6 separate regions of the Homo sapiens genome follow, and regions 2, 3, 4, 5 and 6 are each linked to region 1. Evidence: fine-mapped expression QTL. A gene starts in region 1. Each other region holds a variant in brackets. All regions are shown on one strand. Distances are from middle to middle.

What was found.
Region 2: its variant is fine-mapped to the expression of CCNI in esophagus mucosa (GTEx, PIP 0.94).
Region 3: its variant is fine-mapped to the expression of CCNI in whole blood (TOPMed, PIP above 0.99).
Region 4: its variant is fine-mapped to the expression of CCNI in whole blood (TOPMed, PIP 0.96).
Region 5: its variant is fine-mapped to the expression of CCNI in esophagus mucosa (GTEx, PIP above 0.99).
Region 6: its variant is fine-mapped to the expression of CCNI in whole blood (INTERVAL, PIP above 0.99).

Annotation. Positions count from the first base shown.
Region 1 is chr4:77,072,870-77,077,946 of GRCh38, forward strand. It overlaps CCNI (cyclin I), which reads right to left and starts at 3,120. Exons shown (of 7, transcript NM_006835.3): 1 at 2,603-3,120. RefSeq lists silencers at 2,448-2,597, 2,658-3,007 and enhancers at 3,188-3,417, 3,316-4,286.
Region 2 is chr4:77,221,337-77,226,413 of GRCh38, forward strand. No RefSeq gene overlaps it. Among named protein-coding and RNA genes, the nearest start is that of CCNG2, 67 kb to the left of the region's middle. The variant A/C (reference allele first, on the strand shown) is at 2,804.
Region 3 is chr4:77,015,843-77,020,919 of GRCh38, forward strand. It overlaps SEPTIN11 (septin 11), which reads left to right. Exons shown (of 10, transcript NM_018243.4): 6 at 3,323-3,419; 7 at 4,660-4,828. It overlaps LOC105377291 (a long non-coding RNA gene), which reads right to left. Exons shown (of 2, transcript XR_001741734.2): 2 at 1-4,934. Among named protein-coding and RNA genes, the nearest start is that of CCNI, 58 kb to the right of the region's middle. The variant T/C (reference allele first, on the strand shown) is at 2,438.
Region 4 is chr4:77,147,552-77,152,628 of GRCh38, forward strand. It overlaps the pseudogene RNU6-1187P. Among named protein-coding and RNA genes, the nearest start is that of CCNG2, 7.1 kb to the right of the region's middle. RefSeq lists an enhancer at 5,043-5,077. The variant ATATTAATATAT/A (reference allele first, on the strand shown) is at 2,044.
Region 5 is chr4:77,199,680-77,204,756 of GRCh38, forward strand. No RefSeq gene overlaps it. Among named protein-coding and RNA genes, the nearest start is that of CCNG2, 45 kb to the left of the region's middle. The variant CGTG/C (reference allele first, on the strand shown) is at 2,313.
Region 6 is chr4:77,102,672-77,107,748 of GRCh38, forward strand. No RefSeq gene overlaps it. Among named protein-coding and RNA genes, the nearest start is that of CCNI, 29 kb to the left of the region's middle. The variant A/G (reference allele first, on the strand shown) is at 2,639.

The sequences.
Region 1 (5,077 bases):
TATAGGGTCATAATGTATGTTCCACATAAAAGAACAAAAGACAAGACTAGTAAGACATACTATGATACAGAAAGCATGGGCTTGGCTTTTCTTTTACTGACAGTGCACAAGCCTATTTTCTACGGGTAAAGCACATTTTGAGTTGAATTAATAAATTCCGCTAAGAAAATGCAAACATTTAAAATACAATTTTAGTTTTAACAGAACTATATAGTTATGTTTTGTTACTGTATGCCTATTGTTGGTTACATCCAACTTTGCATGCTTTTTTAGAAAAGCAAGAAATAACAAAAGACTATTTTAGTTGGCATATTCCACACACATCAAACTTTATGCCAGTTTCACATTTCTCCTCCCATCCTCTCAATTGCTGCCGCTTCTCCTTTCTCCACGGTTATCAAATAGCTTAATGTCTGAGGTAATAGTTTATAAAAGGCTTACTGTACAGCATAACTATTACAGATATACATACAGGGCCCCCTGCTCCTCTGAGGAAAAGTGCTGCACAGTGCTGGGTATACAATATAAACAACTTCACTAATATGTATTATTGTATTTGCTATCATCATCACACCAATTCCATTAATAATCCTGTACTAGTGCTGACTTCTGAATCTTAGTTCCTCTTCTGAAAGGAGGGATTAACGTGGCCATACAAGAAACTGAAGTTCTACTATTCCCTCCTTGACTTTATGCACTAGAAACAATGAATTAAAGGTATTTGCAATTCCAAGTGTATGCTCTTTCCCAATCTCCCTGGCTGTACAAGCACTGCTGTTTCAACTTGAAATGTCCTCTAGCTCATACTTCCCTTCCTAAAGTAGCCATCAGTCTGTAAGACTCTCTGGATTTGTGCAGTTGTGCCCTGCCTTCCAACATCTGTACTTGGACATAATTCTACCTTTACATTTAGTTGCTTTGAGACTATTGGTAAACTTGCCTTTCCTAATAATGAATTCTTTGATGTTAATCTCCAGAGTTGAGCATATGCCTAATAGCTTCACTTGTAAACAGCTTAACAAGTAAAAGCACTGAGTGCTTACTATTTGACTACCTATTGTTCAAAGCGCTATGCCATATTAACTCATGTAATGTTCCCACAATTTGATGAAACTGTGGAAAGCCCTTTTTTTCTAGTTTTTTATTTTTCTTACTACACCCCCATTTCAGCCATAAAGCCCATTTTAAAGACGAAGAAACATACATAGGAAGATGAATATTCATTTTTAATGTATTACACAATCAAAACAAAACACGGACACACTCAGCTTCCAATCTTGACCAACACACATGCTAAGCTCCATTCTAACCTACTAGGATGTCACATTACCACATAAACTACCTGTAACTGCAGATCATTTTTACTGAACTTCCCTAACACATGCTGACTGTATTAGTCTGCCCTTCATCGGTATCAAGAAATTTCTAGTAGAGGGGCTCAGAATCTCTCGGAGATTCTCTGGTCCCAGATTAGCCAATCTACATCTATTCCGTCCATTATTTCTTAATCTATTTGTCCAATCCTTTCTATTTCATCTGCCACAAATGACCTGGAAAAGCTAGCAGCAGATAACACTGCTATTTCAACAAACTCATTTTCAGGACAGAGACCACACAGCGTAGAATCAGACTTAATTCTGGCTACTGGGTTTTAGCCGCGTTACCTAAGGAGAAAGTTAATCTTGTGGAGTCTCAGTTTTCCTCATCTGTAAAATGAGGCTCCTACTACCAGCCTTGGGGGGATTAAGTGAATTGCAAGCCACTTAGGAGAATGCCTGGCAGATAATAAGCCTCATCAAATGTTGTTATTTAACGTCATTACTGTAATGCTCTGCTGCTCTAAGTCGAGTGGCTCCCCACTGACAGAATAAAACATAAACATTTTAGTTCAAACCCCTTCAGAGTCTGAATCCATCCTACCTCCCGAAACACCTTCCACTGTTTTGATACCCAATTGTCAACTTCTGCCAAAAGGATCTGTAACGGAGCCCCCTAGCTCCAGCGGAGGCTCCTCTGTCCTCCTTTCAAATTCCAGTTATTTAATCTAGCCTTTAGAGCACAACTCAAATCTCACCTCCCCCGGATTCCCCCCACCCACCCGCCCCAAGCCCTGGGTAACGTTGCCCTCCCCCGAATTTCACAGCACCGGAGGTTCACCCCATTCATTTGGCATTCAGTCTGCCGTGCAAAGTTAGTAATCCTCCTGGTGTCCCCGGAGAATCGTTCAACCTGAGGGTGGGGGTGTGTCCCCTTCTTTGTGTATTAACACGGGCTCGTAGAGCCTCCAACACGCACTATAGAGTAGCTAATTTGCCGCTGCCACAAAAAAAAGTTACTCGCTGACAGAAAAACTGGCCCGAAAAGGAACACAGTAGTGCCGTTTTCAAGTGGGCAGGTGACGGGTCTGTCTGGGCCGGAGAGGACGAAGAGGGCGGCCCCGAGGTTCCCCGGGCTGGGGGATGCGGGAGGGTGGGTCTCCGGCGAGCAGCGCGCGGCCAAGGGCGCTGCCACGGGGGCGGCGCGGGGGGAGCAGCGGGGCCCCAGCGCGTCGACGCCGGCCGCGGAGACGCGTCGAGCCCCCGCCCCCGCCCCCGCCCCTCACCTTCTCCTCCTCTTCCTCCTCCTCCTCCTCCCCGGCAGAGCTGTAGGCCTCACAGTGGTGACGCGGGGTCATCCGGGGGCCCGTTACCACCTCATTCTCATAGGCGCGCGGAGGCGGTGCGCGCGGGACGACTCGGCCAACTGAGGAGGGAGAAAGGGGAAGCGGATCGGGGGGCGCGGGCGCGGGCGCTGGCGCTCGAGCGGGACGCACGGCTGCGGCCGCTGGGTCGGTCAGCGAATTAGTTCCATGATGACCCCCGGCCTGAGGCCGCCGCCGCTCGAGCCCGGGTTGGGAGGGGGCTCCCTCTCGCCATAGGGCGGCGGGGGCCGGGGAGAGGCGGGGGGTGAGACCGGCTCTGCCCCTGCCCGGGGAAAGCGCCTCCGAGGGGAAATGGTGAAAGGGGGGGAGGGGAGAAAAGAAAAGAAAAAAAAAAAAAGAAAGGGGAAAGGGGGGAAAAATAAGAAAAAGCGAGACAGAGGCGCTGCCGCGTCCGCTCGCGGGGAAGGCTGGGGAGGGAGGGGAAGAGAGGGGAAGGGAGGAAGAAGTGCCGGCTTCCTCGGCTCCGCCCTCGCGGACCGATTCCTAGACTCGCCCACTCCTTGTAAACTACGCGGACTTGGTCTTTCACCCTTCCTGTTCCTCCCCGCCGCCTTCCCGGTCCAACGAAAGTACAGAGAAGTGCGGCCGAAAGGAGACGGGCTGGGGAAGTCGTTGGCACTAGGATGGAAGGAGGGAGGACGTTTTCTCGTGGCTAAGAAAAGCCGAAGGTCCGTGGACTCATTTTCCTTGAAGGAGCGGAAGGGTTGCTTGCAGACCGCACGGTGACGTCAGCGTCTCTGGGCCCCCACTGAGGGGGCGTGCGGTGGCCGGAGAGTGCGCTGCGCATGCGCCTGGGGAAGAAAGAAGCGGCCGAGCGCTGCGCTTGGGGGAGGGGATTTCACGATCCGCTCCTGTGGTCCAGCTTTACAGCAGCTTGGTTTTATCTAGCCCTACTCGTCCCCAGGCTCTTAGAAGGATTCACTGGGAAGGGGCTACTGATCTCTTGGGTGGAGATCTTGCAGATTTGTTGACCTAGCAAAGTATTACGTGTTCTTACCGTTGACATGTAAATAGAATTGCGGTTTTTCTCACTGCCACATTGTGTGGGTGGAGGGAGATTCTAAAGGGTTTTAGGAATCGGAAAATTAGGGAGAATCAAATCATGGGTGCTTAAGGCCTCAGTGAAACACTGTAAATTATACTGCTGACGGCGAGGAACCTGCTTGGCAATGTGGCAAGGGGATTTTATCCACTCAACCAACACGTCTGAGTATTTCCGAATAGGTTTTATTACCAGGTGCTTAAAGAATGTGTGGTGACATAAATGGGTTTTATTTGGGGTTCTGTTAGTACAAACGGTAACTTTTTGCTATTTTGATTGTTTTAATTATTTAAAAATATGTAGTATTACAGAGTTTTGAAAGAGGAAGAGCTAGATCTCAACCATTTATAGAAGTCTCGTTTGTTTTTTCCATTTGTTTTTTATATAGTTATTTTAACTGTCAGTGAAAAAATATGTGTTGAGTTTATTTAGTGGCCAGACTCAGCAAACTGGAAGTAGCCAAGACAGACATAGCTCCTGCCTTCATGGAGTTTACAGTCCAAACAGAGGATAACCATTGAGCTAATTATCACTATGTAAAATTACCAAGTACATTTACTTGTTTACTTGTGCATGTATCCCCTCCCTAGAATATAAGGTCGCAGGCGGCAGGGATCTTGCATGTTTCACCCTCTATCCCTGTGTATAAAAGGCTCTCAATATTTGACCAAGTAAACAATTCTGGTATTAAAACCGTTAAGATGGAAAATCGCCGGCTGCTGTGGAAACGCTTGCCTTTCCGCCTGGTTTGGGATATCAGAGAAGGTTTTTCTGAAGAAGTGACATTTAAGATGAGACTTGAAACCACTGGGCAAAGAATGATACAAGCAGAGGAAGTTATGTGAAAAGGCTCCGAAGCTGAGACGTTCTAAAAATCTCTGAAAGCTAGTGTGGCTGGCCCTCAGACAACTGAGGCAGGATGTGGAAGCAGAGGACAGATGCCATAGAACAGAAGAAGGAATGGGAAGCCCTAGGAGGATTTCAAGTGGGTTGTATCCTTTTTTTTTCTTTTTTTCACTTCATGTAGCCTATTATTATATGGTCTTCATTCAAAAAAGCCACCATTTTTCTGCATGTTACTCTTGAGACTGTAGCATTTCTGCATAATACTATTGAGAGTGTAACATAATTCCATTGTTAGACCATGAAATTGCTTCTGATTTTCACTCCAATAAGAATAATGCAAATTCCACTCCTAAATATATACCCAAGAGAAAGGAAAATATTTGTCCATGCAAAAACTTTTTTACAAACGTTAGCATTATTCATAATAGCCAAAGATGAAACAACCTAAATGTTCATCAGCTGGCGCCTGTATAAATCAAATGTGATAC
Region 2 (5,077 bases), 150 kb after region 1:
ATGTCCCATCCCCTGCCCCCACCCCCTACCCGAAATAGAACTGAGCTTTAGTTACTGGATACCTGCCAACAGAGTCCATGAGGACTAGTTTTATTCTGATAAGAGACTTCAACTGAATTAAATTTAAGAGTTCAGTTGAGCAATGAATGATTCACGACTCGGGCAGCCTCCTGAGCCAAAGTATGCTCAGACACCCCAGCGTAGTCACATGTAGTAGACTTAGACAGAAAAAGTGTTATAAAGAAAACAGAAGTGAGGTACAGAAACAGCCAATTGGTTGCAGCTTGACATTTGCTTATTTGAATAGTTTGAATGGTTGACTACATTTGATTGGCCAACTCTGGCACAAGTGTAGGCTGTGGTCTGGTTATAACTCCACTTATTGTAATTAACAATGTATAGAGAAACCTTTAGGCTGAACTTTAATATGTAAGTTTAGCCTAAAGCTGCCTCCTTAACAACTCCAAGTAGGATACAGTGTGTAGAGGCTAATATACTGCCAACATCTGTTAAATATAATGTAAGAATCAAACTAAGGAGAATCTGTAGGAATCAAACTTTTCAGGACGATCATAGAACACTTATCAGTAATGGTCTGTCCTTTTAAATGTCACTTCTGTAGCACGTATAAACCTGTGTGGTGAGAGTACCTAAAATCTACTCAAATCAGTGGGACTGGGTGCGGTGTCTCATGCCTGTAATCCCAGCACTTTAGGAGGCTGAGGGGGGCAGATCGCTTGAGGCCAAAAGTTCGAGACCAGCCTGGCCAACATGGCAAAACTGTACTAAAGATACAAAAATTAGCCAGATATGATGGCGTACTCCCAGCTACTTGGGAGGCTGAGGCCTGAGAATTGCTTGATCCTGGGAAGTTGAGGTTACAGTGAGCTGAGATTGCCCCACTGCATTCTAACCTGGGCGACAGAGTAAGACCCTGTCTCAAATCAGTGTACAACACAGTATTAACTATAGCTCTCACATTGCATATTAGATCTCCAGACTTTACCTACATGACTGCAACTTTATACCCCTTTGACTTACATCTTACTTCCCCCTGTTCTCTGTAAGCACTGTTTGAATGTTTCTATGTATTAAATATTTGGTTTTCTTAGATTCTACAATAAGATCATGAGTTGTCTTGGCTTGGTTTATTTCACTTAATATTTTCCAGGTTCATCCATGTTGTCACAAATTACAGGATTGCCTTCTAAGGCTGAATGATGCTAAAATGAACATGGGCGCATAGGCATCGTTACAAGGTGGTGACTTCATTTCCTTTGGGTATATACCTGTAAGAGGAAATGTTGGGCTCTTAACTTCTTGAGGAAGCTCCATATTGTTCTCCATAACATCTGCACCAATCTAATTCCCACCAACAGCAGACAAGGTTTCCTTCCCTTCTCTACATTCTTGCCAACACCAGCTTGTCTCTTTGAAAAGTCATCCTAACAGACATGAGGTGATGCTTCATTGTGGTTTTGATTGACATTTTCCTGACCAGAGATGTGGAGCACTTCATATATATCTGGCCACTTGTATGTCATCTTTGGAGAAATGTCTATTTAGCTCCTACCAACTTTGAAAATTGGGTTGTTTTATTAATATTGAGATGTGAATTGACTAAACTTCGTATGTTAACACCTTATTAGATATTGTTTGCAAATACTCCGGCAAATTCATAGGCTGCCTTTTCATTTTGTTTCTTTTGCTGTGTAGAAGTTCTTCAATTTGTAGTCTCACTTAAATTTGCTTTTGTTGCCTATACTTTTTGGTATCCTGTTCAAGAAATAATTGCCAAGACCAATGTCAAACTGTGTTTTCTTGCAGGGGTATTAGTTTCAGGACTTGATTTAGGGCTCTAATCCATTAGTCACTTGTGTATAAGGGTTCAATTCCTTTTTTGCCTGTAGAAATCGTTTTCCCAAAACCACTTATTGAAGCGTCTAACCTTTCCCTATGGTGTCATCTTGGTACCACTGAACTAGTTGACTACATATGTTTGAGTTTTTCTGGCTTTCTGTCCTGTTCTGTTGGCCCATTGGTCTGTTTTAATGCTGGTATCATACTGCTAGGATAACTAACCTGGCACTGAGATCAGGTAGTGTTCTAGCGGATTTGTTCTAGCAGAAGTTTTCCTAGCAGGCTATCCTATGAATTTTAAGACTCTTCTTCCTATTTCTATGAAAATGAATTTTGCATCTGTAGACTGCTTTGGGTAGTGTGGACATCTTAATATTGCATCTTATGAGCTTGGGATATCTTCCCATTTATCTCAAATTTCAGTGTTTAGTTTTCTGTACGAAGATCTTCTATCTCTCTGGTTAACTTATTCCTAAGTCTTTTTTTGATTAAGTGGGATTGTTCTTTTTGGGGCAGTGTAGTGTATAGAAATGCTACATTCCTGTATGTTTGTATCCTGCAACATGACTGAACTCATTAGTTTTAACAGTGGAGTCTTTAGGGTTTTCTATATGATGTCTGCAAACAACGGCAACATTACTTTACCTTTCTGATTTGGATGCATTTGATTCTTCTTGGCCCCTTGCTCTGGCTAGGACTTCCACTACTGCACTGAACAAAAGTAGTGAAGCAACTGTCTTGTTGCTTGATCCTAGAGGAAGAGTGTTCAGCTTTCCACTATTGAGTATGATGTTAGTTGTGGGCTTGCAATATATGGCCTTTTGTGTTCAAAACACTTCTATACCTAATTCCCTTTTCTCCATGAAAAGATTAACTGTTAAACGCCCTTTCTGCATCTGATGATCGTAGCATGTATAAATCAAGGTAGTTCAATGTAAGTCTA[A/C]ATGGCTTGGACCACCTGAAAGACTTTTCTCTGCCTTGGTCAAAGGTAGCCTGAAGCTTCAAGATCTCTTGTCCTAAGGCCATTCCATCTTTACCCTCTTCACTCAGACACTCTGAAAGACCTATCCAAGGAAGAACAACAAAGCCAGAACTTGTCTATCGCCTGGAGCAGGGCTTTTCTAGGTACCTGTTGCAGGTTCCTCAGGTTGGTGTACTCCTCAGGCAGGAGCAGTCCTGTCCCAGTCTTCTTGCATGTATAAGCAAGAGATCAAAAGTGGCTCTACCCATGAGAGGGGTGGGAGTTTTAACTTATTTTTACTTGCCTGATGTGTCGTAACTTTGACAATGAGCTTTCAGAAGAGTCGACAGAGCTGCCTAGAACCAGGTGCTAGTAAAGCACAGAGGCCAGGGAGACGCAAGTGAGCTGTGTGGAGGTGTACCAAAATGATAGGTTAGAGGATGGATCCCATAGGTACAGACTTTATTAGTATCATTCCGAAACAGCTAAATTGGCTATTCAGTTTATGATGGTCCTTGGGGTTCTAGGAACTGCCTGTTACTGCAATGTGGAAAAACCAACTCCTGATCCAAATCCCGAGTGGTGTCAGGACCCTCTGTCTCAGGCAAGACCTCCATTATCTCTTGACTTCAGATGAAAACTTTCATGCCTTTCAACAGCAGGTGTCAAAACTTAAGAGGTGTCCAAGGTAACTGAGCCATGAGGCAAAGTACAAGATAAGGAGTGATAGGACGCAGGAGATAGCACAGTCCATGTGGGGAGGTGGGCAACCTGTGAGAGCCCCAGTGATCCTCACATGTGGTAAGCACCCTACTTTCAGGGTAGATGTAGTTACTTGCCTTGTGATGAATAGTTAATGGAAGAAGTTGATGGTACATTACTTCCAAGATTAGGCTATAGAGACTGGCTTCTGTAGTTGGTCTTTTTCTCTTTGATCAGTTGTTCAAGGAGACGGCAAGCTGCTACATTTATGAGTCACCCCATGGAGGATAAAAGTGTCACAGCAAGTAGCAGAAACCCTCAGTCCAACAGCCTGTCAGGAGTTGAAGCTCACCACCTGTGAGTGAGTTTGGAAGTAGACATTCTGAGGTGTGACAGCTGCCATGAGTATACTTGGAGGCAGATCCCCCTGACACTGAGCCTTCAAATGGAAACTTATCTGGCTAACAGCTGGATTGCAACCTCATGAGAGAACGTGAACCAGAGGCATTTACCTAGGCTGTACTTGTGTTCCTAACCCTTGGAAACTGTTTTAAGCTGCTAATTTGGGATCATTTGTTTGGCAGCAACAGACAAGCAATAGCCTATGTGAGTTGGCAGCTGCTACTTAGCTTGACCCAACCATTTGCTCTATTAGAATGACAACTCTGGCTAAGAAGGAACTCAATGAACTAGAAATTTAGATTTCTAAATTATAGGGCAGAGGTAACATGATAGTAGACTCTGGAGTCTTCATGTTTGATCAACATTACATTTTTAATAAAGTAATGCTACCTTCTGAGTCTCTCTTGTGGGAGGCCAAGTGGTAAAACTAAGGCTCTAAATCTCAAGTAAGCCTGCTGAGATGCTACCAAAGTCTGTCTTCTATCCTCTTCCAATTCCCCTTGTCATCTTCTGGTCAATGAATGGGGTAAGACTATTTGGATCAAGATACAACAGCCTGAATGAGCTGAGGAGTCTTGGTGCATTCTTTGAAAATGGTAATGGAGTAGATATAATTGGAGAACTTTCCAGGGTCAGACCAGAATGCCAGGTAGCAGAGACAGGCATGCTGAGGCCTTAGAGCATCTGCACTCTGAGATGGCTGTCCTTGGGTGCCATCGTAGACATCATCCTCTTAAGACTTTAATTCTTCTCACTCAGCACAGGGAGCTCTACCTACTGATAACCTGGCGGGCAGCACTGTCCAATTGAAACATTGTGAGCCACCTGTGTAACTGGAACTTTTAGTAGCTACATTAAGAAACACAAAGCAAGCGAATCTTAAAATGGAATCTAGTTGGACTTGTAGTCAATCACAACTACTAGTTGTGGGTGGATCCTAGCTCAAAAATTTCCTGCCCATGTAGAATTCCTTGCCTGTTAACAAGAGAATGTACTGGATTATCTAATCATGCTTCCCTAAGATGTTCTGCCACTTCAGGAATGTGTTTTAAAAGGAACGATGAACTTTAAGCATATCAGTTGTGACCTTAAAGGCTTTTTGGTGTCTGAAAAGTTCTAAAATATAGTCTAAGTTTTCACCTTTCTCTGGTA
Region 3 (5,077 bases), 57 kb before region 1:
AAAATGGCTAGACTTGTGCAAAAGAATGAATGGACAAAAGATCACCAAGGGGTTTTGGTCCCATTACGAAGTGAGTGTTTAACTAGTAGAGCCACTGAGATGGAAGATACACCTTACTTCTTGGGAAGTAGTGAGTTCCCATCGCCAGTGGTTTGTAGATAACAGACCCTGTTTCAGTCCACTTGGAAGAGATACTGTAGCAGGAATTCTTAAGCAGGATTGAACGTATAATAAGCAAGATCTCTTCCACCTCTAAAATTCTCTGGTTGTGGGTATTGAGAGCTACATAATAATAATAGCACCTGACATTTTTCACATTTCTGGAGCATTTACTATGCACCAGGAACTGTTCAAGACTTTCCATTTAATCCTCACAACAGTTGCATAGGTAGGTGCTGTTATTATTCCTCCCTCATATATGAGGAGACTGCAGCACAGCACCTAAGATTGCATGGCTGTGGGTAGTGGAGGTAGAATTGGAACCCAGGCTTTGGCTGTCAGGCTACACTCTCACCCTGTGTACTGCCGCCCGAGCAGAGCAGTGTACCATCAGCCTCGGCATCCATGGATTTCACCAACCATGGACCAAAGATATTTGGAAAAAAAAAATGCAACAATAAAAACAATAATACAAAATATATATATATATGTGTATATATATAGCATATATATATATTTTGTATTATTGTTTTTATAATATATATAGCATATATATTATATATGCTAAAATATATATATAGCATATATATACACACACATATATATATATACACATATATATATATATACACATATATATATATATATATATATACACATATATATATATATATGGCCAGGCACAGTGGCTCATACCTGTAATCCCAGCACTTTGGAAGGCCGAGGAGGGAGGATCACTTGAGGCCAGGGGCTCAAGACCAGCCTGGTCAACATAGCAAGAAAATAAAAAATAAATTCTACAAAAAAAATTTTTTTAAATAGAGTATAATAACTATTTATATAGTGTTTACATTGTCTTAGATATTATAAGTAATTTAGAGATGATTTAAAGTATACAGGAGGATGTGCATAGGTTATTTGTAAATACTATACCATTTTATATCAGAGATTTGAGCACCTGCAGATTTCAGTGTCCATGGACAGTCCTGGAACCGGTACCCTGTGGATACTGCAGGAGGTCTGTACTTTTTTATAGGAAGGTCAAAATCTCAAACTGAGATGGCACTCCTTTATTCTGCTGTAGAACTGTAATTTGGGATGTCAGTGTGGGATTCAGGAAGTATCATGAATGACTGCTATGTAATTTTTCTTTATATTCCTATCCTTCTAGATAATTTTTCATTATTTTCTAGTCATGGAACTATATCTTTGTTAAACTTATTGGAAATAAAATACCCAAGAATTTTTGCTCTCTTTCTCTCTTTATCAGATTAATAGAACTGAATCTCTGACATTCCAAATTAATCCTGCTCTTTAAAGAAATTTTCTTTTAGGCTCTTCATTACAAACTATTCTTGCTGATCAAATTCCACGTAATGTCTGAGGAAAACAGATTCCACTGGCAGTTGCTTTTGTTACATTTGAGTGGAGAAATTTCCTTGGTCATTACACCAAAATATTGACCAGAAAGGTCCTGTTGCTCCTCAACTTCAGGGGAAACAATAGGGTTCAGGTCTGAAACTCAGACTTGTTTGAGAAAGATAATGTGCTTTCTTTCCTTCTTAGGGTGTGAGATGAACTAGAACATTTCAATATCTTGAGCGTCCAACAAAATGCTACTTGGGCAATCTGAGCCAATGATTATGCCAAGTTCTTTGTAGGAGAGGAATTGGCTTGAAAACTTTATCTTCTTTCTCAGTGTATCTATGGTGGAAGAACACTGGATCAAGGAACTCTAAATAATAATTCTTGGAGCAGCTATTTCAAATCTTATTCTTACATGCTAATAGAAAAAAGATAGGATTATTATTTCCTCCCTCACTCAGAATGCAGTGATAACTACCAAATAAACCAATGTGAAAGAGTCAGTTGTCTTGGACACCATCTCTACTTCAGATAAATCTGGGTGCATAGCTTGAGCCAGTAATTTGGGCTAAAGTGTGTTTCGGACTTAGAAATTTGTGCAATAGTCAACTGTCTAAAGCAGTGTTGTTCAAATAGAACTATAATGTGAGACACACAAGTATTTTAAAATTTTCTAGTAGCTACCTTAAAAAAGTAAAAAGAAATGTGAAATTAATTTTAAGGACTTAACCCAATATGTTGCAAAATATAATTTCAACATGTATTCAATATAAAAATTATTAGATATTTTAGGCTGGGCACGGTGACTCACGCCAGCACTTTCGGAGTAATCCCAGCACTTTCGGAGGCCAAGGCGGGCGGATCACAAGGTCAGGAGATCGAGACCATCCTGGCTAACACGGTGAAACCCCGT[T/C]TCTACTAAAAATACAAAAATTAGCTGGGCATGGTGGCCGGTGCCTGTAGTCCCAGCTATTTGGGACGCTGAGGCAGGAGAATGGCGTGAACCCGGAGGGCAGAGCTTGCAGTGAGCCGAGATCGCGCCACTGCACTCCAGCCTGGGCAACAGAGCGAGACTCCATCTCAAAAAAAAAAAAAAAGATATTTTAATGTAGGTCTTTGAGATCCAGTGTATATTTTACAATGACAGCATATCTCATCGTGGACTGAATTTTCACCAAAAATATTTTATCTGTATTTACATTTTGTAAAATTCACAGCTAAAAAGTTAAATTTACATACAGGTTTCTCCTAACATACCTTAAAGATTTTCAATATGAAATAAGTGCCAAAAAGATACTTTATCTTTAATCTTTGTGTCTACCTTGCCATCTACCTTGGTCTTTTTCAGAAGATTTGAGTTTGAAGCAAAGTGAAATGCAGTTTTGCCAAAACAATAAAGTTGCATTTAATTGAAAAATATTTTACGTTGCTTCCATTTTAAATTTAGATGTAAACTAATTAAAAGTTAGATATTCAATTTCTTGTTCCTACAAGCTGTATTTCAGGTGCTCAACAGTCACATATAGTTAGTGGCTACTGCATCGGCTAGCACAAGTCTTAAGCTTACTTTATAGTTGCAAAGACTCATACACTTTTCCCTTGAATCTAGCTCGTGTCTCATACTCAGTGTTTGGTTATAAGGGGGGTGGGATACGTGACATCCACCCACCAAACTGCAGCCTGCTTTTCCCTTGTCACCAAGTAGAGGCCTGCAGAAGGAGGGAGAAGATAGAGACTGGTGGAAACCAGTCTGTCAGAGCAGGGGAAAGTAACTATTCTCTGTCCTTTTGCTTGGCAGGTCCATCTCCCATTTGCAGTGGTTGGCAGCACCGAAGAGGTGAAGATTGGCAACAAGATGGCAAAGGCCAGGCAGTACCCCTGGGGTGTGGTGCAGGGTATGTGCACAGCATGGGAGATGGAGTCTTCATATTTAGCCCCTATGTGAATGGCCGTGTTTGTTCATTTTCCGTCTTGTTTAGGGAGGCCCTCAACAGTGGGCTGGCAGTGGGAGGGAGTGGTGGGGCTCCACATGTGACAATCGTGGAGGTGAGGAAGAAAGAAAAAGTAATCAGCTAGGTAGACAATGGAGAGACATGGCTGCCAAGCCCTTGAGGTAACCCCTCAAGGATGCTGGGTTGTGTAGGGAATTAATATAAAGTCCTGATTGAAAAATAGTTCTTCCCTAGGAGTTGGAGCTCGTTTCATCAGCCAAGTATTAAAAAGCAGCAAAAAGTTTCTTGCAAACAAGAGGGTACTTTTTTCTCCATCAACTATGCAAAAAATGTCTTCTAATAAAATGTTATCTTAGTAAATCTGAGACTTAGGAGAATATTTGATCTATATTTGGCACTGTGGGACATGGCCACAGTCTAACCTGAAAGCTTGTCACGTGTGTCACTTTGAATGACAAGGACTCTATGACCTACTCTTATGTTCTGAAGGAGGACATCCAGTGCTATGGATTAAGCAGGATGGCTAAAGAAAGTTCTTCGCTGGTTTAAGATGTATCAGACCTCCTTTTCCTCTGTTTTGAATAAAGGCAATAAAGCTGTGAGAAGAAACAGTACCTTTGAGATCCCTGGGAAAAATACAATTTTTCTTACTCTTACTAATTTCTCTACAATAAGAAAACTCCTTTCTTCCTAGTGTTGTTGATAAAATTAAATGAAGTGGTATGTAAAAGTGGCCCTGCACAGTTATAGACAGCATGGAGTGGTACAAATACATCTGGCTTTGGGCCAGATGTTCTGGCATTTGAATCTAGACCCTGCTACCTCTCTTTGGGAGGTCAGCTTGCTCACCAAGCTCCTGCGTCTGCAAAGCAAGAGTCATGACATCTAGTTGGCAGAGTTATTATGAAGGGTAAAGACAATATTTGTTTTCAAGCTCCTCCCTCTGTGCTCTGTGCTGAGTAGGCACTCAGCAGTCAGCGTTGTCATCAGTATTATGGTCAATGTTGTCAGAAATCTTGTCTTCGTCAGGAATGTAAGGTGAATCCAGTAAAGGATCTTCAGATGGTCTTGAGACCCCAGAGATTTCAGGAGTGATGGTAATAACATCTTGGAAGCATCACTGCAGATATTTCAGTGACATCATTGCTAATCCCACTTCCGCCATTTCCCCCCTCTCTTGTAGTTGAGAATGAAAATCATTGCGATTTTGTGAAACTTCGAGAGATGCTGATCCGCGTGAACATGGAGGACTTGCGAGAGCAGACTCACACCCGCCACTATGAATTGTACCGACGCTGTAAGCTTGAAGAGATGGGGTTCAAGGACACTGACCCTGACAGCAAACCCTTCAGGTATGAAGGCATCTAGCAATCAGGTGTCTCCCAGACAGTGGCGAGAGTGGCATGGTGGTACATCACAGAAATGCTTGCTGGATTGAGATGGTGATGATGGAAGGATCTGGTGGGTGAAGATTAATACATATGTTGTCAGGCATTGTGATAATTGCTTTATTTGCATTATCTCAACTAACTTACCTAGTTGATGTCATTATTATCCACATTTTACAGATGAGGAAACAAAGGCACTGAAAGTGTAAACAA
Region 4 (5,077 bases), 75 kb after region 1:
TAGAGTCAGATTGTCTAGGTTTGAACACTGATTCCACCACTGTCTAGCTGTGGGATCAAGTTACATAAACTCCCTGGGACTCTATTTCTGGGTCTGTGTGATGGTACTTACCACTTGTGTGTGTTACAGGCATTAAAGTTATGTCAGGACATATAAATCACTGAATACGGTGCTTGACAACTTCATTATTGATTACTACATGTAGATTATTATAAAGCTAATGAAATTTAGCTTCAGGGGCCCTCATTTGCACACTCTCTCCAAGTTCTCAGGAGTGGCCCTAGCAGAGTGTTCATGTGTTGGTTAATTTTATGTCAACTTGACTGAACTAAGGGATGCCCAGGTAGCTGGCAAAACACATCTTGGGGTGTATCTGTGAAAGCATTTCCAGAAGAGAAGGGCATTTGGATCAGTAGACTAGTAAAGAAGACCACACTCACCAATGTGGGTGGGCATTATCCACTATGCTGAAGGCCTGAATAGAACAAAACGGCAGAGGAGAAGGGTGAATTTGCCCTTGCTGTTTGAGCTGGGACATTCATCTTCTCCTGCCTTGGATATCAGTGCTCCTGATTCTCAGGCCTTTGGACTTGGACTGGGACTTAACACTATTGGTTTCCGGGATTCTCAGGCCTTTGGGCCTTGTACTGGAACTACACCACCTGGTTTCATGGGCCTCCAGCTTGCAGACAGCAGATTGTGGGATTTCTCAGCCTCCATAATTGCATAAGCCAATCCCTCATTATAAATCTCCTTCTATATACAGTCATGCATTGCTTAATGATGAAGATAAGTTCTGAGAAATGCGTCATTAGGCAATTTTATTATTGTGTAAACTTCATAGAGTGTACTTACACAAATTTTGGTACTATAGCTTACTACACACCTAAGCTATATGGTATAACCTACTGTTCCTAGGCTACAAATCTTTGCGGCATGTTACTGTGCCAAATACTGTAGATAACTCTAACACAATGGTAAATAGTTGTGTATTTAAACATATCTAAACAGATAAAAGCTACAGTAAAAATACAATGTTATAATATTATGGAACCACTGTTGTATATGTGATGCGTTACTGATTGAAACATCATTTTGCTGTGCATGACTATATCTATATATATCCTATTGGCTTTGTTTCTCTGGAGAACCCTGACTGATACAGTTCACATATATATTTTTTTGAGTTTTGTGAAAGTAAGTGATTTTAATTACAATCAGTTAAGGCTGCTATCTTTCTCCATGTCAAATTTCACTGTATCATTTTCCCTTGAATTTAGAGGTGCTTGAGTGTCCACCAGCATTTTGGGGATCTAAGGGGAAGTTGAGTTGAAAACATATCATTTAACTAAAATTTAAAAACACATTTTGGATTGTTCCAATAAAACAATGAGGAATTATAAAAACCTAATTTGGATATAAAAGAAAGGTGCTCTGTTTTGTTATCTAAAAGTGCTTTTATTGAAGAACTAAGAGAAAATTTACATAAAAAGTTAATGGGATATGAAATAAAAGTGATAAAAATGCATGATGACATTGCTTCTTGTTCAGATACGAAGAAGCAAACTATGTATAACACTTTTTCCAGATCATTCTAAAACCAGTGCTTCCTTACAGGGAAAAGAGAAATTTTTAGAAGTAATGGATAAGTCTTGGATTGTTTGATACTCTATTAAGAGGAAGGAATCATAAAATCCTACAAAATATAGAAATTTCTTGCTGATTTGATACAAAATACTGACATTGACAAAGATGACATAAACCTCAAAATATGCTTCTGCAATGAAGAAACAGATGAGAAGCTAAATAATTAGTCTATCCGTTTTCACTGGTATCCTGGATTTTTTATAGCTTGTACGCAGAAAAAAACTTGGTAAAGATTTTCCCAAATCTAATATCAACCATAACATATACTATGGTATTAATAATGAATTATAAAACTGAAATAAACATTTTAAAACAGCAACAATTTTTTAAAAACAAAATTTGATTAGCCATATTAAAGGAAAAACTAAATTTAAAAAAAGTTCTCTTCAGAAAATT[ATATTAATATAT/A]TATTATCATATGAAGAGGTGATCAGAGAGTATACAGCCAAAAATATTGGTAAAAAGTTGTACAGCCATATGTCAGGCAGTTTATTAATAAAAAATATTATGGGATTTTCCAGATTTTTTATGTTTGTGAATGTAAAAGACTATTTTCCAGAGACAGTCATCACAGTATCTCCTATCCCACATGCTCTTGTTATAAGGTGATTGACACATCCCTCATTGAGAAGTGGAATCTACGTTCCCTGTCTTTGAACCTGAGTAGATGTGACTGTGGCTGAAAGGATGTTGTAGTTGACAGAATAAAGGTCCCTCAAAAATGTCCACATCCTATTCCTCACCAGCTGTGAATATGTTATGTAATATAGCAAGATGGAATTAAGGTTGCAAATCTGCTGACCTTTTTTTTCTTTTCTTTTCTTTTCTTTTCTTTTTTTTTGAGACAGGGTCTTTCTCTGTCACCCAGCCTAGAGTGCAGTGGTGTGAACATGGCTCACTGCAACCTTGACCTGGACTCAAGTGATACTCCCACCTCAGCCTCCCAAGCTGAGACTACAAGTGCATGCCACCATGCTTGGCTAATTTTTAAAATTTTTGTAGAGAAAACGTCTTGCCATGTTGCCCAGGCTGGTCTAGAAGCCCTGGGCTCAGGCAATCCTCCCATCTCGGCCTCCCAAAGTGCAGGGATTACAGACATGAGCCACCATGCCCAAACTTTTCTTTTTCTTAAAAATACGGAACACTTCATAAATTTGCCTGTCATCCTTGCATGGGGGCCATGCTAATCTTCTCTGTAACATTCCAATTTTAATATATGTGGCCAGGCGTGGTGGCTCACGCCTGTAATCTCAGTACTTTGGGAGGCTGAAGCGGGCAGATCACCTGAAGTCAGGAGTTCAAGACCAGCCTGGCCAAGAGGGCAAAACCCTGTCTCTGCCAAAAATACAAAAATTAGCTGGGCGTGGTGGTGCACACCTATAATCCCAGCTACTTGGGAGGCTGAGGCAGGAGAATCCCTTGAACCCAGGAGGCAGAGGTTGCAGTGAGCCGAGATCGTGCCACTGCACTCCAGCCTGGGTGACAGAGTAAGACTCCATCTCAAAACAAACAAACAAACAACAAACAACCCCCCCCACACACAAAAAAAACAACAAAAAAACAATTTTAATATATGTGATGCTGAAGCAAGCACCAGCTGACGTTGAGATGGTGAGACTATACTGGACTATTCAGGTGGGCCCAATGTAATCACTAAGGTCCTTATAGCTGGAAGTGGGAGGCAGAAGAGTCAGAGTCAAGAGAGATCTGGAGATGCCATGATGCCGGCTTTAAAGATGGAGGAAGAGCCACAAGCCAAGGAACGCAGGTGGCCTCTAGATGGTGGAAAAGGCAAGAAAATGAATACTCTCTAGAGCCTTCAGAAGGACTGCAGCCCTGCTGACACCTTGATTTTAGCCCAGTGAGACCCATTTTGAACTTCTGACCTCCAGAACTGTAATATGATAAACATTTGTTGTTTTAAATCCCTAAATTTGTGGTAATTTCCTAGACCATCAGTGTGAAATTAATATAGATGCTATCTGACTGCCAAGGCTGGTTTGTAAAAGGAGACACAGTGTTCACCTGATTTTCTTCAGGCCCTGCCACCATGCCATGAGGAAATGGAAAGACCACGTGGAGTGGTCACATATAAATGTTCCAGCCACCAGCCTCAGCAGAGGTCCCAGCCCACAGTCAGCAACAACTCCAGACACGTGAGTGGCAGCAAGATGATGCCAGCCGCAGTTACCATCTGATTACAACTTCATAAGAAACCCTGAGCAAGGGCTGCCCAGCTGAGTTCAAGCAACGCCCCAGACCTGTGGGTGATGATAATAAAATTATTGTTGTTTTGAGTCACTAAGTTTTGGGTGATTCATTGTACAGCAGTAGATAGCCGAAGCAGTCAGTATGTAACAACTGTTTAAAATTTACACTTTGTCTTGAATTGTCTCGTTTTAAATAAGTATTCACTTTCATATCTAATTTTGTATTTGTAAATTCTTTTTTTCCTAGAGAGAGCCCCTCCAAATAGTAAAGCTTCAAATGTACTACCTTAAATCTGGTTCTACTTCTGCATGTAGCCACAATTTCTTATTCAGAATGTGGTTGAAAACATAAAAATATACGTAATTAAACAGACCTGAGGATCTTTGATATAAAGCAGTCTTTCTTTTTTTCTGAGACGGAGTCTCGCTCTGTCACCAGGCTGGAGTGCAGTGGCGTGATCTTGGCTCACTGCAACCTCCACTTCCCAGGTTCAAGTGATTCTCCTGTCTCAGCCTCCCAAGTAGCTGGGACTACAGGTGTGTGCCACCACACCCAGCTAATTTTTGTATTTTTAGTAGAGACAGGGTTTCAACAGCAGTCTTTCTTTTTAAAGTTAAAAAAAAAATTTCATTTTGAAAACACTTTAAAATGTTAACAGAAGCAAATTTTAAGCTTATACCACTTATCCATATCACTTTAAACATCAATTGCCTTTTCATTTGAGATAAAAAAAGAGATCATGACTCTCACAGACAGTAAAACTTCTTTTGGAAATAAGATGATACATTCAACAGATGTATCCTAAGTTACTCTTTGCTGACAGTGTCAACTTCATATAGCACTGTGATGTCAAGGAAAGACAGGAAATCTCTGAGTTAGGTCATGGTTCTTGAAACAAACCATGAAAGAAAAATGTGTTACATAAAGAATCATGTACAATGTACCAGAATGTAGCCTGAGCCACTTAAAATATATTTTAAGATGATTTTGAGATGATTAGTTCTGATTTCAGGCATTGCCGAATTCTCAGTTCACTCTCCTTTGCCAGGCTTTTCACATTATGTCAAAGCTACTTCATTTATTTCAGTTGATTATTCGTGTAAAAGAGAGAGCACTGGATAACAAAGTACTGAGTCGGGCTTCAGAGTCAACCGAGCATTTAGTTCTCAAGTTCTCAGGTTGCAGAGATAGTTCCTACAAGGCTACTCTCTTGCAGGCTA
Region 5 (5,077 bases), 130 kb after region 1:
TGACAAAAATACTAACCAGAACATGGACCAACTTGTTTATGAACCCACTTGAGGCCCGGAGTTAACTAGGGCCATTACCTGGAAGCTCCTGTGCTCTTCCCCTCACTGCTTTCTCTGTATGATGCTAGATTATTTGTGACTGATACTGAGGGTAATGAAGAATCTCAAACACTGTCTGGCTTTGTTGTGTATGACATTTAAGTGAGCCAAATACTTGAGCTCCTCTGGCAAGTGTTCTGCTTTAACCAATTAGCTTGTATAACAGACTTGGCTATCTTGTCACTTGGATTTGAGTGTGATGGAAGAGTTGTTTCCCTCACCTTGTGTGAGCCTCTACCAGCAAGTTAGCCTGTTGGGGAGGCAACTAACACTTTATGGTAATTGGAGCAGTCCTTCCTACAACTGTCTTCTCAACTTGATCTTAGTTACTGTTCTCTTAGGCAGAACTTGCCCATATTTCACTTACCAAGGAGTATTTGGAAAGTTTGTCTCAGAATAAAAACCAGTGATTCCCTCGACTCAGCAGCAAAGGCATCCAATGTTTCACCCAAGCTAAACTTTGGCTATTACTCCAGCATAAAAAGCACTTGTCTAGGATGAGTCTGCATATGTCCATCCTGGTCTTGAGCTAATGCGACATGAACAGTTTGACCAAAGATGAGCTTGAGACTGGCCAGACATGTGACCTAATGGAAGATAATTATTGTACACATACACCTGTAACTGCCCTTGAATAATGAATCAGTCTTGACGGAAATAAAGCCTAGCAACAGCAAAGGACCCAATGCACGGGAAAACTCGCTGGTGTCCATTTGACTTAGGCTGAGAGAAACATGCTGAACTCCCAGCTGTCAGTTTGTCACCTGCCGTGTAATATTTCAGTGACTATTTTGCTTTGTCCAAGACTCCATAGGATTTGAGTGCATAGGTAAAGACCCTCCCTGGTGATAGAAGCTTCTTCCAGTAGATACTCAGTCACAACCATGATTCAGAGGGGCTTTCTTGATGTCTTAAATTTCAACACGTGGAATTGCATTTTAAAGTTTTTTGCTTATGATCAGGTACTAAGTGGATTGACTGCATTTTGTCAACTTTACTGGTAGTAGGCATGTCCCTAGTTATATGGGGACATGTACAATTTGAACTAATAGATCTGTTAGCTCATAAGAAATCAGAGTTCTCACAAATGCTAGCTGTTGCTTGCTATTCTATTCTCCACCCACCCCCACCATTTGTAGGAGCTGGGTATCTTTAGCATGTCTTTCAAAGATTTCTATACCTCTCACAGGGTTGAGAAAGACTTGTCAGATCAATAGATGAGACACATTCCCAGATGAACTTGGAAGTAGAACTATAAACAATGCCATGGGTATCCCCAAACCTATGCAACATTGTTTTGAACCAACACAGCCTCTACAGGTTGAGGAAGCCACACTTATTGGTATACTTCATAGTGAATTCCCCACTGCTGTGCAGTTTCTGCTCAAATTTCTACTAGGTGGTTTCACGTCACTTCCAGTTACCATGCTTCTGGTCAATTTGGGGTGGATTTTTAAGAACACTCTGGTTCCATATATAGCCATCTCTTTGGGTTCTCTCAGCATTCTGGTTCTATTTTCATGTTCATACTAGTTACTTTTGCCTAATCTTATACCACTTCCCACCCACCTCTTGTCATCTTTTAAGGTTCTATTTCCCTATCCTTAATTCTTACTGCTTTGCTTTAAGGTTGTTGGGTAGTGAGCTGATTTCCTCTTAATGTCGCAGGCATTTAAGACCATATACATACTGATTCATGAATGTATAGGACCATGGTGACTATGAACAGACCAGTCATGACTCAACTTGCAAAATACCTATGAATGTGGACAAGGAATAGTATGTACAAGAGTCACCCAGACTTGACTTCATGCCATTGTTCTGAATGCTCTCATATTGGTTCACTTATAGGAGTAACTACCTCAGGGTTTTATTTTATAGAGAAAAACTGAGGCTCAGTGTCACCCTCACAATCTCTCAAACCTAGGAAATTGTTCACTTTAGGTTGTTTTGAAGTCTTTCCATATACTACTCCTCTTACAGTGACTTGCTATAGCTTGCCTTGAGAACAAACGTCTCACTTTAATGCTTTATGGTTAAGGGTCAGGTATAACTCGGATCAATAAGCTAAACCTCTAAAATCAAATAGTCGGGTGGATGTCATTCTTACCTTGCTCAACAGGAAGCTAGATGTCTTAAGACCACTCATGCTACAGGAAATGATTGTTTCCCTGTGCTTACCTGGCTCTTGAGTACACTGACTCAAATGTCAA[CGTG/C]GTGGGTAACATGGGGCTTCTATGAAAAGCTTTTGGTGTGGCAGGGTGTAATGGGTTAAATGTCCTGAGCTTAGTCATGTACTTGATTGTCTATGACTAAATGACCAAATAGACATAAAAAGGGTGGAGTAAATCTGTCATAATTTACAGCATATCTTGCTGTTCTTTTTTTCTCCCTTTTCTCTTGGCCTGTGGCTTAACTGCACCTAACATCTCTCGGGAGTGCCTTAATAAAACCAGTTAAGGACTGCTTGTTTTATACAAGCAATGTATTCATATACCTTCCTGTTAACAGTAAAAATCTAGACTAGCGTAACAATACTTGTCTGATTAGTGAGGCAATTAGTATGTCACCTGACAAACCAGAACTGATAGAAATCTTATTTGGAGGTGTTACCATAATCAGTTTCTATTTAACCTGACATACCTGAGAAAGCATTTATGGGCCGGATCTGCCAGGAATATGACATCTCAACTACTCTGTCCTTGGTGGTTATCACCTATATGATAATCTGAAGCTAAACCTGCACAAGGTCTTCCTTATACAAAGTGTATTGGGACCTGAACCCCAGGTTTGGGTCCACAGCCAGATAACTAGTTCTGCAAGAAGAGGTGTTAGTATGGTTGTGAAAACACCTTCCCCATCCCCTGACTCACCTTCCTGTCAACTGCTTCCTACTGGAATTCCTCATGAATAGGTGGTTAACACCTTGTACTTTGTCCTAAACAACCCAGTTTTGTCTCACTCACCCCGTCTTCCTCTCCAGCTTGTTCAAGTCTCTTGTTCAAGTCATTCCACTTCAGGCCTGTTAAGACTACTTCTCTTGACACAAATCTCCAACCCACAGACTTTCTCATTCCAGCTGTTGCCTTTATTGACTTTATTTCCTTGTTATAGTATCTTTCATTTATTTAACCCCATGGCTTTTTTTCTGGTAAATCTCAACCCTTCGTGAATCCCAAATGTCTTAGTCCTAATACTAGAAAGATAAGGCTTGGCTGAGTTAGACTATGGTAGAACCATGTCTCTAAACTTATCACTGACTTCTGATGTATCTTTCCAACTCCCAAATTTCGCAGAGGGGAGAGAAGCTAGAAAAACAGGGTTGTTGGGCAATCTTGGTAAACTTGGGCCCTTCTAAACATGTAGCTTTTGTTTTATTCTTGTAACAAGTTTTTCCTTGCTTTCAGGTTATAAACGAGTGAGTAAAACATGAGATAATGTCCAGAACTCAGTGTAGCAGGAGTTGATTGATTTGCTCTGGTCTCATATGCTCACCAATTCCTCCACATTAAACCCACCAAATTAAGTAGCTGCCCTACTCTAAAATGGTTCCACCTACTGACTCCTTGTTCCTTTCTGAAATAGTCCTGGTGTCTCTGATTGCTAGAGGCTAAGTCCTGTGACTGTGTCCCTAGCAGCAGCAGGGACTCTGGGAGAGAGCCCTTGGGATAATGGGTCTCGATGGGAGAAACCCCTCAAACTGGGGTCATGAGGCCTTCCAATGTGACAAAGTTCCACAACTATGCTGAACTGGTCCTAAGAAAAGCTTACATGACTGCATGTCTAACCAGCATAGCAGATAGCCATGGCTCACCTGTGCTCTTGAAGACAGTATGAAATTGAGACCAAGTAGCTTACTCTACTCGACTCTGAGTAAATGTTTCAACGGTGTCTATGCTGCTGTGGTAAAGCATTCACTCCAAACGGGGAGCATCCTTACGTCCAGCTCACTTTTCAAGAGTTAGCAAAGTCATGGCTTTGCAACTCAGTCAAGCTTTTATGGTTACTAAGCGCCCCCTGTTGATGGCAGTTTAAAACTGGTTGTGCCCCATGCTTCAAAGTGGCAAGACCCCGTGTGTCTAATTCCTGAAACAGTCCAAGGCTCCAAACATGAGGGCAGGCCCCGTTAGGTCCTCTCTGGCAGCTTTTGCTTCACCCTTGCTTCATTGTTTGGGCCTCTTGCCTCTTCTCCTAAGATGGCTTCTAGGGTTGGCATTATCAACACAATCCCTCCATTCCTTCCACACAAGGCTAATTGCTTTGTTCTCATTTGCTCAAGGTATATGAGAATAAACATAGCTGCAAATCTTGAGCTGGTTTTGAGAAACCTGTTTCCCTAAACACCTTCTTGTGCTTGGATGGAAGGCTTAGGACCTTAGCCTAGTGCCTAGAAATGGCTGATCTTCTAGTGAGTTAATAGGTCTCAACTACAGTTAAAGTTAAAATGACCCCGACTAGCTTTTGAGACTACCTAAAGGACCCATTTGGTTCTGATCTGCCATGGACCAATACTTTGTAAAACACAATAAATAGAAAATGCCAAATTTTGTTAAACCCACACCCTAGCAAACAAAGGGGAAGAAATACATGGTTCGTTGGAAGAACATACAGGTGACAGGTGACGACTACAAATGTACAATGATAGTTATCTAGAGGTAACTGAGGTACATGTTAATGTTCTTGTACAGAATGACTATTGTGCATATAGTGCTTAATGTACTGAGTTCTTCATGTGACAAATAAGCTTGTTTAACCTACTGAATCTAGGTTGGAGTGATAGCAATGCTACTCAGAGGAAAACAACCAAAAGGCTTTGTTTTAATAGCTTTCACAGCAGAGGCCAATCTCACATCCCTCAGAAGTATGTTGACCAGAACAGAAGAATTTAAAGCTATTGTAGCAGAATTGGGGTATATTTAACTTTTAAAATGAAGTAATGCTTTATTTTAAACTCATCTCTAATCCTTCATCACCATCT
Region 6 (5,077 bases), 30 kb after region 1:
CCTAATATTTCACAGGATATTTTCATTACTTGGAAGAAAAAAATGCTCTGTAGATGTCATTTTTCCTTAAGAAATAAACAAATGAATACTAAATGCAACTTAAGTAAAAAGGTTAATGAGATTACTGGTGAGAAAATTACTCCAAATACTGCAATTTCTCTCTCTCTCTCCCCTCCTCCCCCCACCCCCCGCCCCCCGCTATATATATATATATATATTTTTTTTTTTTTTTTTTTGAGACAGAGTTTCACTCTTGTTGCCCAGGCTGGAGTGCAATGGCGCAATCTTGGCTTACTGCAACCTCCACCTCCCGGGTTCAAGCAATTCTCCTGCCTCAGCTTCCCGAGTAGATGGGATTACAGGTACCCACCACCATGCCCAGCTAATTTTTGTATTTTTAGTAGAGACAGGGTTTCGTCGTGTTGGCCAGGCTGGTCTCAAACTCCTGACCTCGGGTGATCCACCCACCTCGGTCTCCCAAGGTGCTGGGATTATAGGTGTGAGCCACCACGCGGCACCGCAATTACTATATTCTATGACATATAGTGTATCTGTTTTACAAAGTGCTTATGATACTTGTATCATGCATATATATATATATATATATATATATATATATATATGTCAAAATTTTTTTGACAAATTCATTTTAATCAAATTAGCTTTTATTTAGTGATTAGTGAATGGAGCCCCATCCCTTCTAAAATTAGAAAGGTGCTCTGATTAGCCGAGCACAGGAAGTAGGCTTTATAGGTAGAAGAAGGCTAAAGAAAGCAGAAACAGGCAGGGCGCGGTGGCTTATGCCTGTAATCCCAGCGCTTTGGGAGGCCGAGGCGGGCGGGTCTCCTGAGGTCAGGAGTTCAAGACTAGCCTGACCAACATGGAGAAACCCAGTCTCTATTAAAAATACAGAATTAGCCGGGTGTGGTGGTACATACCTGTAATCCCAGCTACTTGGGAGACTGAGGCAGGAGAATCGCTTGAACGCGGGAGGCGGAGGCTGCAGTGAGCTGAGATTGTGCCATTGCACTCCAGCCTGGGCAACAAGAGCGAGACTCCGTCTCAAAAAAAGAAAAGAAAGCAGAAACAAGGAACAAAAAGAGAATTGGTTGTTACAGAGCTAGTTTCCTTACAGGGTTAAAACAAAGGGGACTTCCTTATGCTGGCTCAGGTAAACTGGGCCCCTTCTAATTGGTTGCTGTGAATTGAATATCCTGTTGTTTATTTTTAGTGTTTTTAAATTTTTTTATTCAAACAGATTTTGACAGATCTATTTTTAAAAAAACTGGCCTTGTTTAAAGAAACTTTGTTAATCTTATGAGTTAAGAATGCTTTTTTCTTTGAGCAATTTAATGGTTTTATCACATAATTGATTGCTACTATGCATAAAGTTTAAAACACACATATCTCTTTTTTTTTCTTTCTTTTTTGCGACAGTCTTTCTCTGTCGCCCAGGCTGTAGTGCAGTGGCATGATCTCAGCTCACTGAAATCTCTGCCTCCCAGGTTCAAGAGATTCTCCTGCTTCAGCCTCCCAAGTAGCTGGGATTACAGGTGCCTGCCACCACCCCCGGCTAATTTTTGTATTTTTTAGTAGAAACGGGGCTTCACCATGTTGGCCAGGCTCGTCTTGAACTCCTGACCTCAGGTGGTCCACCTACCTTGGCCTCTCAAAGTGCTGGGATTATAGATGGGAGCCACCGTGCCCGGCCTAAAACACACGTATCTGAAGAGATGACCTGCATATTAATTTGCAATAGAAAAAGAAATAATGGAGTTTACTGAATTAAATCACTGAACTAATTTGACAGCTTAAACTATAGTAGTCAAGCAAAATCTCTGTGGAATTCATATTTACATATTAAAACATTCCTGAGTTAAGGGGAAAAAAATAGCTTGGCTTTATAGCTTCAGGGAAATACTGCTAAGTAAATTTAGGGGACTTCCAGTGGTAGAGTAAAAGGGGGAAAACCATAGAATTATCACACTTTTCTGACAACTGGAGCTCAAACAAACTCTTGGGACATAAGCTGCATAATTCTGTCCCAAAGAATGGTTCCTCTTGAGTGACCTTCTGAGGGTCCAGGTCTTCCTGGACCTTGAAAATAAAGGGTAGAGTTTGCACCTCAGGTTGGGAATCGGAAATCAGATTTTAAGGCGTGAGGGAGGTGTAAGTCAGCCAAGGACACAGAGTTCTTCAGAACCAAGCTTTCCTGGGACATGAATCATATTTATTTTAGGCATAAAACTTTCTAGCTCCAAATGAGGGAAAATTTCTTTCTTGCTTTATAAAGAATGTCACTCTCTGCCAGAATGTTAGGAAGCTACTGAGTAGATCCAGTCCTGAGGCTCTGTGGCCCATTTGCAGAGTTCTCCTTCTTAACCTTCTGTCAGCGGTCTGCCTGGCCCTATGCCAAGCCCAGCTTCTCAGTCCTGCGGTTGTGTGTAAAGGCAAAATCATGTCTGGGGTGTAGGCTGCATTCTCCAGTGAGTTTGTTTACCTGCTCCAGGTAAGTCAATATGTCCCAAGAGAATCCTCGGGACACAGAAAGCATATCGTGCCAAGTGAATGCAGCCCTGCTGTAGGCCTGCCTCATTAGACAAAACCATAGCCCTTTGCTTCCTGAAAACGTTCCTGC[A/G]TGGATTTTAAAGCTGTAACACGACCTTATTAATTTTAGTTGCAAACTTGAGCACATACAGATGGTCTATTTAAACCATAATAAACCTATGCTACACTGTAGGGTTGTGTTCATTTATGTGGTTGCATTTTACCATAGTGTTGTAAAGTTAAATTCTAGGCTATCAAACAAAAATTTCCAAATGTGAGAAATGTGAGATCCTTTTTTGCCTTTCTTTTTTTTTCTTTTTTCTTTTCTTTTCTTTTTTTTTTGAGGCAAGATCTTGCTCTGTCACCCAGGGTGGAGTGAAGTGGTTCACAGCTCACTGCAGCCTCAACCTCCTAGGCTCAGCCTGTCCTCCCACCTCGACCTCTTGAGTAGATGGGACTACAGGTGCACACCACTGTCAAGTGTTCGAACCAGAGCGACTCCATCTGGAGTAAGGACTATGAAAATGAGGCTGGGACTTGCTGGGCTGCGTACCCAGCAAGTTAGGTATTCCTAGCCTCTCGATGTTTACAGTTAAGGGAACAGATTGATAATGTTTACTAAACAGACCCAGACTTGGGAGTGTCCTGATATCCCGATATCTTGAAAACAGAAGCATTTTTTTTTTCTTTCTGAATTTTTAATAGAGACAGGGTTTCACCATGTTGCCCAGGCTGGTCTCAAACTCCTGAGCTCAAGTGATCTCCCACGTCAGCCTCCCAAAGTGCTGGGATTACAAGCATGATCCACTGAGCCTGGCCAGTTTGTCTGTTTTTTTTTTTTTTCTTTTTTCATGCTATGAAATTATTTGTATATTGTAGGTACTCAATAAGTATTGAATTAATTATTTAATTAATACCTAAAAGTCAATCTGATTGAAGTTGCTTGTATTCAAAGGATCTTAAATAATTCAAATATGTGCAACATAATCCATTTTGTTTCAAAAAATTATTTGTGCTTATAAAAAAGGCTGGAAGTATATTTTAAAAAATATTAGAAGTGATTATCACTGAAGATTGGTGTTATTGGTGATTTGAATTTCTTTGTTGGAGAAGTTAAATTATTCCTCTTTGAAGATGAAATGATTTTATACTGAAAAAACCCTAAAGACTCCACCAAAAAAAAAAACTGTTAGATCTAATAAACAAATTCAGTAAAATTACAGTATACAAAATCATCATAGAAAAGTTGGTAGCATTTCTATATACCAATAGCAAACTGTCTGAAAAACAAGTTAAGAAAACAATCCCATACACAATAGCTACAAAAATTGAAATACTTAGGAATAAATTTAACCAAGAAGGTGAAAGATCCTTACACTAAAAACTATACAGCACTGATGAAAGAAATTGAAGAAGACACAAATAAATGGAACGATACCCTGTGTTCATAGATTGCAAAAATTAAGATTGTTAAAATGTCCATACTACCCAAAATGAACTATAGATTCAATGCAATCCCTATCAAAATGCCAATGACATTCTTCACAGAAATAGAAAATACAATCCTAAAATTGTATAGAACCACAAAAGGCACCAAATAGCCAAAGCAATCTTGAGCAAAAAGAGTAAAGCTGAAGGCATCAGACTTCATGATTTCAAAATAAGCTGCAAAATTATAGTAACCAAAACAGCATAAAAACAGACATATAGAACAATGAAACAAAATAGAGACCCCAGAAGTAAATCCATGCATTTATGGCCAACTGATTTTCGACAAAGGCACCAAGAGCACACAATGGAAAGGAGAGTCTCTTAAAAAAATTCTGTCGGGAAAACTGGATATCCACACGCAGAAAGATGAAATTAGACCCTTATCTCCTATCATATACAAAAATCAACTCAAAATGTATTAATAACTTAAACGTAAGATCGGAAACAATGAAACTACTAGAAGAAAACATTAGAGGAAACTCCATGACTTTGGTCTGTGCAAGAGTGTTTTGGATATTACCACAAAAGCAAAGGCAACAAGAGCAAAAATAGATGGTTAGAATTACATGGAACAAAAAGCTTCTGTACAGCAAATGAAACAACAGAGTGAAGAGACAACTTACAGAATGGATGAAAATATTTGCAAACTCTATCTCTGATAAGGGATTAATATCCAAAATATATATACAAGGAACTCAAACAATTCAATAGTGAAAAAAAAAGCAAGTAACCCTATTAAAAATGGGCAAAAGACATAGAAGACATACAAGTTGCCAATAGGTATATGAAAAATGCTCAGCATCAATAATCATCAGGGAAATGCAAATCAAAACCACAATGGGATATCACCTGACACTTGTTAGCATGACTATTATCAAAAAGACAAAAGATAAGTGTTGGCAAAACCATACAAAAGAATGAAATCATGTCCTTTGCAGCAGCATGGATGCAGCTGGAGGCCATTATCCTAAGTGAATTAATGCAGGAACAGAAAACCAAATACTGCATGTTCTCACTTATAAATGGGAGCTAAACACTG